Linked DNA regions of Homo sapiens: region 1 is linked to region 2. The links come from fine-mapping of genetic effects on gene expression. A gene starts in region 2. The other region holds a variant in brackets. All regions are shown on one strand. Distances are between the middles of the regions. Region 1 overlaps ZBTB1 (zinc finger and BTB domain containing 1). Region 2 holds the start of PPP1R36 (protein phosphatase 1 regulatory subunit 36).

The links. PIP is the estimated chance that this variant, and not a neighbour inherited with it, causes the effect.
Region 1: its variant is the best candidate, but not a certain one, in a credible set for the expression of PPP1R36 in whole blood (TOPMed, PIP 0.53).

The regions. Positions count from the first base shown.
Region 1 is chr14:64,519,765-64,524,009 of GRCh38, forward strand. It overlaps ZBTB1 (zinc finger and BTB domain containing 1), which reads left to right. Exons shown (of 2, transcript NM_001123329.2): 2 at 1,723-4,245. The coding sequence starts at 1,741. The coding sequence ends at 3,882. All of the region lies in intron 2 of HSPA2-AS1 (HSPA2 and ZBTB1 antisense RNA 1), which reads right to left. Among named protein-coding and RNA genes, the nearest start is that of ZBTB1, 17 kb to the left of the region's middle. The variant CAG/C (reference allele first, on the strand shown) is at 1,735.
Region 2 is chr14:64,548,097-64,552,628 of GRCh38, forward strand. PPP1R36 (protein phosphatase 1 regulatory subunit 36) reads left to right here and starts at 1,865. Exons shown (of 12, transcript NM_172365.3): 1 at 1,865-1,970; 2 at 2,825-2,889. The coding sequence starts at 1,902. RefSeq lists a silencer at 1,731-2,020.

The DNA.
Region 1 (4,245 bases), 28 kb before region 2:
GAGACCCTGCCTCAAAAAAAAAAAAAGGAAGAAAACTTTACACTCTAAGGATAAATAAAATACCTTCTCAAATAAACCCACTGCTTCTTTATACCCTGAAATGCATGTTGAGCAACATGAGACACATTCTAACTCTATAGAATTATTGCTTCTTTGATAATTCAAGAAAAGACAAAGGCACTGATCAAACTTGTTTGGTGCCATTTCTATATAATCTAATAAGGTTGTTGTTGTTGTTGTTGTTGTTGTTGTTTTGAAACGGAGTCTCGCTCTGTCGCCCAGGCTGGAGTGCAGTGGTGCGATCTCGGCTCACTGCAAGCTCCGCCTCCCAGGTTCATGCCAGTCTCCCGCCTCAGCCTCCTGAGTAGCTGGGAATACAGGCGCCCACCACCACGCCTGGCTAATTTTTTTTGTATTTTTAGTAGAGACAAGGTTTCACTGTGTTAGCCAGGATGGTTTCGATCTCCTGACCTCGTGATCCGCCCGCCTCGGCCTCCCAAAGTGCTGGGATTACAGGTGTGAGCCACCACACCCAGCCCTAATAAGGTTTTTTTAAATTTTTATTTTTGGGATAGAGTCTCACTCTGTCACACAAGCTAGAGTACAGTGGCGTGATCATGGCTCACCACAACCTCAAAATCCTGGGCTCAAGCCATCCTCCTGCATCAGTCTCCCGAGTAGTTGGGACTGCAGGTGCATCATCATGCCTGGCTAATGTTTTTTTGTTTTGTTTTGTTTTGTTTTTAAGGCGAGATCTTGCTATGTTGCCCAGGCTTAATAGGGTTTTTAAAATAGATTATTTTAACAACACATGGCCAATCTTGTATCATCTATTGCTCCCCACACCCACCCCATTTATTTTTAAGCATATCTCAGATGTATCATTTCATCTGTAAATACTAAAGTATATATATCCAAAAGATAAGGATTCTTTTTAACACAATCAAAATACCTTTCTCACACTTAAAAAATGAGCAATAGCTCCTTAGTATTAATCATTTAATAAGTTTTTCATACTTTACAATCTAATTGTTAACTTTCAGTTTAAGTTGCTGTTTTATTTACTTTCATTACTCATATCCTTCAAGAGTTGTTTTCTTTTTTTTTTTTTCTTTTGAGACAGAGTCTTGCTCTGTCATCCAGACTGGAGTGCAGTGGCGTGACGCAACTCACTACAGCCTCTACCTGTCGGGCTCAAGTGATCCACCCACTTTAGCCTCCCAAGTAACTGGGACTACAGGTGATGCCACCACACCTGGTTAATTTTTTAAACTTTTTTGTAGAGAAGAGGTCTCACACTATTGCCCAGGCTGGTCTCAAACTCCCGAGCTCAAGCAATCCTCCTGCCTCGGTCTCCCAAAGTGTTAGGATTACAGGCGTGAGCCACTGCACTCGGCCTCCTTCAAGTATTTTTAAATTAATGTCTTTTTTTCTGTTCAAATTTAGTGTACATGTTCCCCCCAAGAGTTGTAATGAAACTAAAACTGTCTTTTGCTTTTGATGCCTTTGTTCAATATGAAAAGCCTGAATAAATGGCTGGATGTCTTCATCTTCAAATTTAAAAAATGATTCAAGTATATATTATTGAGTTTTATTAGAATGGAAAGCTCTTAATTTCTTGATTGTAATAGCAGTCATGCAAGTCACAAATCATGATAAAAGTTAATTTTGTCAAGTGCTTTTCTATATCTTGTTTGACTTTAATATTTTTGTTTTACATAGGTCTCTAATTAA[CAG/C]AAGATGGCAAAGCCCAGCCACAGCAGCTATGTCCTTCAGCAGCTAAACAACCAAAGAGAATGGGGTTTTCTCTGTGACTGCTGTATTGCAATTGATGACATTTACTTTCAAGCACACAAGGCAGTTCTAGCTGCCTGTAGCTCCTATTTTAGAATGTTTTTCATGAACCATCAGCATAGTACTGCACAACTGAATCTCAGCAACATGAAAATTAGTGCAGAATGTTTTGATCTCATTTTGCAGTTTATGTATTTAGGAAAAATTATGACAGCTCCCTCCAGTTTTGAGCAGTTTAAAGTGGCAATGAACTACCTACAGCTATACAATGTTCCTGACTGTTTAGAAGACATCCAGGATGCAGATTGTTCTAGTTCAAAATGTTCCTCTTCTGCTTCCAGCAAACAGAACAGCAAAATGATATTTGGGGTAAGAATGTATGAAGATACTGTGGCTCGAAATGGCAATGAAGCCAACAGGTGGTGTGCAGAGCCAAGTTCAACGGTAAATACACCACATAATAGAGAGGCTGATGAAGAGTCTTTACAATTAGGTAATTTTCCTGAGCCACTATTTGATGTATGTAAAAAAAGTTCCGTGTCCAAATTATCTACTCCAAAAGAACGTGTGTCAAGACGCTTTGGGCGGAGTTTTACCTGTGATAGCTGTGGATTTGGCTTTAGCTGTGAAAAATTATTAGATGAGCATGTGCTAACCTGTACTAACAGACATTTATACCAAAACACAAGATCTTACCATAGAATAGTAGATATTAGAGATGGAAAAGACAGTAACATCAAAGCTGAATTTGGTGAAAAAGATTCTTCCAAAACATTTTCTGCACAGACGGACAAATACAGAGGAGACACAAGCCAGGCTGCTGATGATTCAGCTTCAACCACTGGAAGCAGAAAAAGTAGCACAGTGGAGTCTGAAATAGCAAGCGAAGAGAAAAGCAGAGCTGCTGAGAGGAAAAGGATTATTATTAAGATGGAGCCAGAAGATATTCCTACAGATGAACTGAAAGACTTTAACATTATTAAAGTTACTGATAAAGACTGTAATGAATCCACTGACAATGATGAATTAGAAGATGAACCTGAAGAGCCATTTTATAGATACTATGTTGAAGAAGATGTCAGCATAAAAAAAAGTGGTAGGAAAACTCTAAAACCTCGAATGTCAGTAAGTGCTGATGAAAGAGGTGGTTTAGAGAATATGAGGCCCCCTAACAACAGCAGTCCAGTACAAGAGGATGCTGAAAATGCATCTTGTGAGCTGTGTGGACTTACAATAACCGAGGAGGACCTGTCATCTCATTACTTAGCCAAACACATTGAAAATATCTGTGCATGTGGTAAATGTGGACAAATACTTGTAAAGGGTAGGCAGCTTCAGGAACATGCTCAACGATGTGGCGAGCCCCAAGATCTGACCATGAATGGGTTAGGAAATACTGAGGAGAAAATGGACTTGGAAGAGAATCCTGATGAGCAGTCCGAAATAAGAGATATGTTTGTTGAAATGCTGGATGATTTTAGGGACAATCATTACCAGATAAACAGTATCCAAAAAAAGCAGTTATTTAAACATTCTGCCTGCCCTTTTCGATGTCCTAATTGTGGCCAGCGTTTTGAAACTGAAAATCTAGTGGTTGAACATATGTCTAGCTGCTTAGATCAAGATATGTTTAAGAGTGCCATCATGGAAGAAAATGAAAGAGATCACAGACGAAAGCATTTTTGTAATCTGTGTGGAAAAGGATTTTATCAGCGGTGTCACTTAAGAGAACACTATACTGTTCATACTAAGGAAAAACAGTTTGTTTGTCAAACATGTGGAAAGCAGTTTTTAAGAGAGCGTCAGTTGCGACTGCACAATGATATGCACAAAGGCATGGCCAGGTATGTCTGTTCCATTTGTGATCAAGGAAACTTCAGAAAACATGACCATGTACGGCATATGATTTCTCATTTATCTGCTGGTGAGACTATATGCCAGGTCTGCTTTCAGATATTCCCAAATAATGAACAGTTGGAGCAGCACATGGATGTTCATCTGTATACATGTGGAATATGTGGAGCAAAATTTAATTTGAGGAAAGATATGAGATCACATTATAATGCCAAGCATTTGAAAAGAACCTGAGTGATTTTCTACTGTACTAATGTTTAGATGATAGCAGATAAAACACCAAAGCAAAGGATATGAGCTATTTAGGAATTGATTATATAAGATGATTTGTTAGAAACAAATTTCAAGGCCCTTTTAACTTTAATATTTTTGTTTAGGATTTTAAGTATCTACATTTAGGTATTAAATGTTTATCATTTTTGTTGTTTCTTAATAGAATTATTTGTTTTTAGTTTTTCTTAGCTATGATTAAAATTTTTAAATGTAGACTACAAGTGGTTGTTACCCATTCAATGACTATTAAACTTTAGTTTTTCATCAATAAGGTGATGACTTCACTATTTCTATGTGTTTTTTTTTTTTTAAGGTTATCCTGTG
Region 2 (4,532 bases):
ATGTCTTGGACCTAAAATCTGGGACCAGCAATTTAGTTATATATTATATGCTCTTAGATAGTTATATGACCTTAAGTTTCTCTTAATTAGGAAAAAAAAAAATTCCCTCACAGGACACTTGGAGTTATCAAATATTTAGAAGTTACCTTCATCCCTACTAAATATCATCAATTGTGTTTATTCTTCTTTACAGGGACAATCATATTTCCAGTTTTGGTTGTGAGTTTCTAATGTCATTTAAAAAGAAACCTAACTGGTGAAAAATGTACCTTAGGAAATCGGTGGGTCACTTTTTAAAATAAGTACTGTAATGATTAAGAGATGTAAAAACAATCTTTTCTTCCTCCTTTTGTTTGGGGTAAAGTGATAGAGAAGTATAAGATTGTCCCTTCAGAGTTACTGAAACTTTCCTTTAAATATTATGTCCCTCTATCACATGCGAAATAACTTCTCCTTTAATTTTTAAGTAGTTATTGTTTTGGGCTCTCAACTTTTATTTTTACCTAAGTTTTGTACATTAGACAGCCTAAGTTTATTCTGTGATAAGATATATAGATCTTAAGTTTTCTATCAGCACTTCTCCACACATTATTGGGATGAACTGAAGAGGTTTACTGACCACTAGTGTGGTCTTCCCGGTAATGATTATGTAGTGATTGGATGCCATCCAGATTCCTTGGTCTGTCTGCATCTTTTCTTGAGCTTTACCTCATTATTTCCCTGTCCTGTCCACCCCAAGTTATGTTCGCTACTTGGTGAAAAGCTCTTGGCATATGGGATAGTCTCCTTTTCAAGCGTGTCATCTTGTAGTAAGAAAGCCTTGCCTGCGGCCAGTATATAAGTGGGTTTCCATATACCTGGACCAACTGAACAGCTGCCAGAATGGACTCAAGTGAGCAGAACATGAATCTAGATGATTACTATTTAATCACTGTAGCCAGTGATTGTGTATTACCAAGTAGTGAGACTGGGAGGGTGGGAATAGAAGAAGCAGTGGGATGACTACTGACATAACTTAAAAGTTAATGGGAGTATATATCCACTACTTATGAGCCTCTCATACCAATTAAGCTGTGGTGATACAAAAGAATATACTAGGCATTCCCAATCATGTTGCATCATCTAGCATTGCTCACTTAGAGCTGGGAGGAAAAAAATCAGCCAGAATCAGCATTATCAACTCCGTTGCAAGAAGGAATTACAAGACACATGATTTGAAAAGTGTAAATGTAAAAATATCAATTGAATACCCATTGACACTAAGCAAGTTTCTTTGTTTTTGAGCAACACTAATTTTGAGTACTTAAGACTGGTGCTTTACACACACCACTCCAAAAATCCACATAACCCCTGATTTGGTGTTTTCAGAAGAAAGATCAGAATAGTCTTGTCCTAGATTCCACAGCTTGTTAAGCAGCACAACTGTTATGAAAACCTTATTTCCGTACCCATGTTCTCTTCCACGAGGCTACCCTGCTTCCCCACCTCAACCCTGCTCTCCCCATCAACCTAGGTTCATCCTGGATTTGAACTTAATAATAGTGCTAATCATGAAAGTTAGGAAGAAATGGATCTTTCTTCCCTATAGGACTGAATGTAGTTACTCCAATTAAAACAGTAAAGTGAATAACTTCATGAAGTTCAAGGTTGGAATGCCATGAAGAATTATGCCCTGGGCGGCTTTACAATGGATAGGCCAATACGTCGCCACGGCTTTTAAGACTGGGAAACGGGGCACCAGGCTGGGCTTTAGAAATCGCTGGAGAAGCCTGGGTGCGGCCGCAGCCCGCGCGGCCTAGGACGGAAGCGACGCCCCGCCCCGCTCCGCGCCCCGGGCAGCCGTGTGCAGGCGCCTGCGGGCGGTATCCTCGGCGACGCCGTATGGCTTCCAGGGCGAGGCCATGTACCGGGTGCCCGAGTTTTATGCGAGGAGGAAGCGGTTAGGTGGGCAGACCCCTTACTTGATGGATGTAAGTGCAGCCTTGGTCGCCCCCATACCCGGGCTGGGCGCAAGGCGGGCCCTGCTGCCCCCAACCGGCGCCGCGCCCCTCGCCCTCCTCCAGAGGCGGGTCGTCGCCTTCGCCCCGGGCTGGCGGTTCTCAAAGACACCTGGCCATATTTGCCTAGAAAAAAAAAAAACTCTGGTGTATTTGACAGATGGTCAGAATTGAATTCTGGCTCCCTGCGCAGGTAGTTAGATATTTACGAAATCCCACCTCACCACCTCTAATTGGTTGGTTGCAAAATAGGGAGACCTACTGCGGGGGAAGCAGCCCCGCTCTGGATAGAAAGGCTGGTGGGTGCTAGCTTCCACGGTGAAAAGGGTGTACTTAACTTTTTGCCACTGCCTGTAAAGGGCAGGCTCAGTGTTGGAGCCCGGAAGTCTCCAGAACCAGACAGCTGAGGCTGTCCTGGGTATCAGTTTATTGTCTGAATTTCAATTAATTGGTAGATTGCTATGATGAGCTATATGTAGTCCCAATTTCCTTCCTATCTTTCGCCCTTCCCTTCCTCCGCTGCTTCTTTCCTCTTTTCCTACTTTCCTCCCTTCCTTTCTCCCTCTCCCTCCTTCCTGCCGTTCTACTGAAGCCACACCTAAAATCAATCAAAGCGATAAAATCCTAGCTTCAAGTTTAACGCTTTAGGATTCTACACTCTTACTGAAAGTGTAAAGAGGGACTAGTAGGAACCATTGTTTTTTGTTTCCTTCTTATTACTTAAAAGATGTGTTAGTAAGTAGGAATTATTGTTAAAGGTTTATTGTGGCATATGGATTGTAAATTGAGCTTTTAATTATTTTTGCTGCAATCATTTCGTTTTACAGCAGTTGGGATTACGATTAGGGATGTGGTACTGGAAAGATGAAACCAGAACTCTTGAATTCAGAAGGTAAAATTTAACAACACTTTATTAGAGTTTTTATAAAAATTACATGTGCCTGGGGGAAAAAAAAGCAACAGAAGAGTATAGAGAATAAATACCCACTGAACCTTTGCCATCTGGAAGGAAACAATCATTTCAGTGAACAGCCTTTCTCTGAACGCTTACCAGCTGCTTCACATGGACCAGACACTGTGCTAATGTTTACCAACTCTTTGAAACAGCTGCATGTTAACCAATTTACAGATGAAGAAACTGAGGTTTCAAAGGGTTCAGCGACTTGAGGAAAATTAAGTGACTTAGCCCAATCACACAGCTCAGAGGTGACTAAGATTATTTAAATGTAGGTCTGTTTGATTTACAGAGTCCATGTTTTTAATTATAAAATTGCCTTTTTGAGTTAGAGAAATATAGTTAACATTAATGGGAACATATTATATCTGCTGCAATAGATGGTGAATCTCACAAGGTAAAATTACTAAATTAGAAAAAACTGATTCTAATCTCTATGAAAAAAGACACTGACTCTTACAAGTGTATAGCTAAATTAATACTAGACACTATCTGTTGTGCACTGATTGTGTGCCAGATATTTGCATATTTTTCCAATTCTTAAAACAACTGTGGAAAGTGAACATTAATGTCCTCATTTTATAGATGAAGAAACAAGGCTCAGGGAGATTAAGCAACTGAACCAAAGTCATACAGCCAGTAAGTAGCAGAACTGATAGTTTGAACCAAGATTTGTCTAATGCTAAAGCCCTTTTCATGTACTCGCTGTCTCCCTCAACTAGACAGTAAGCTCCTCAGTGGCAGGAACTATCTTATTCATCCTCAGGTCTCTGGAGCCAGCTACAGAACTTCTTCAGTAGGTACTCAACAAATATTTATTGAGCATGTTCAAAGAATCTGCTAGATTCAAGCAGAGGAAGAATAGATGCAGGTGATCCATTAGAAGACTAGTTGTAGGATTACAGATAATTATACAAGTAAGCAATAGCGAGAGTTAGAATTAACTCCAGGTTGGTAAAAATAGAAAGGCAAAGGACTAAGAAATACTTAAGAGAGGATTGACAGGATGTTTGGATAGGATTGATAGGATGTGGGGATTGGATGTGAAGGGAGAGGGAAAAGCAGTTGTTTAGATTGGCTCCTAGGTGTCTGACTTGGGTGATCAGGTGGCTGGGATTGCCCTTCACCCATATACAGCATTGAAGTGACAAAACTGGTGGCTGGGTGTGGTGGCTCAAGCCTGTAATCCCAGCACTTTGGGAGGCTGAGGCGGGCAGATCACCTGAGGTCGGGAGTTTGAGACCAGCCTGGCCAACATGGTGAAATCCTATCTCTAATAAAAATACAAAAATTAGCCGGGCGTGATGGCGGGCACCTGTAATCCCAGCTACTTGGGAGGCTGAGACAGGAGAATTGCTGGAATCTGGAAAGCAGAGGTTGCAGTGAGCCAAGATTGAGCCACTGCGCTCCAGCCTGGGCGACAGAGAGAGACTCCATCTCAAAAATAAATAAATAAATAACATGACAAAACTGGCCATGTTTCAGGTTGCTATGACTTGTTCACATTAATACGTCTTGGGCTGTTGGACAAATGGGGGCTGGAGGTCAGGAAAGGAGTTGGCTAAGCAGACATACATAGT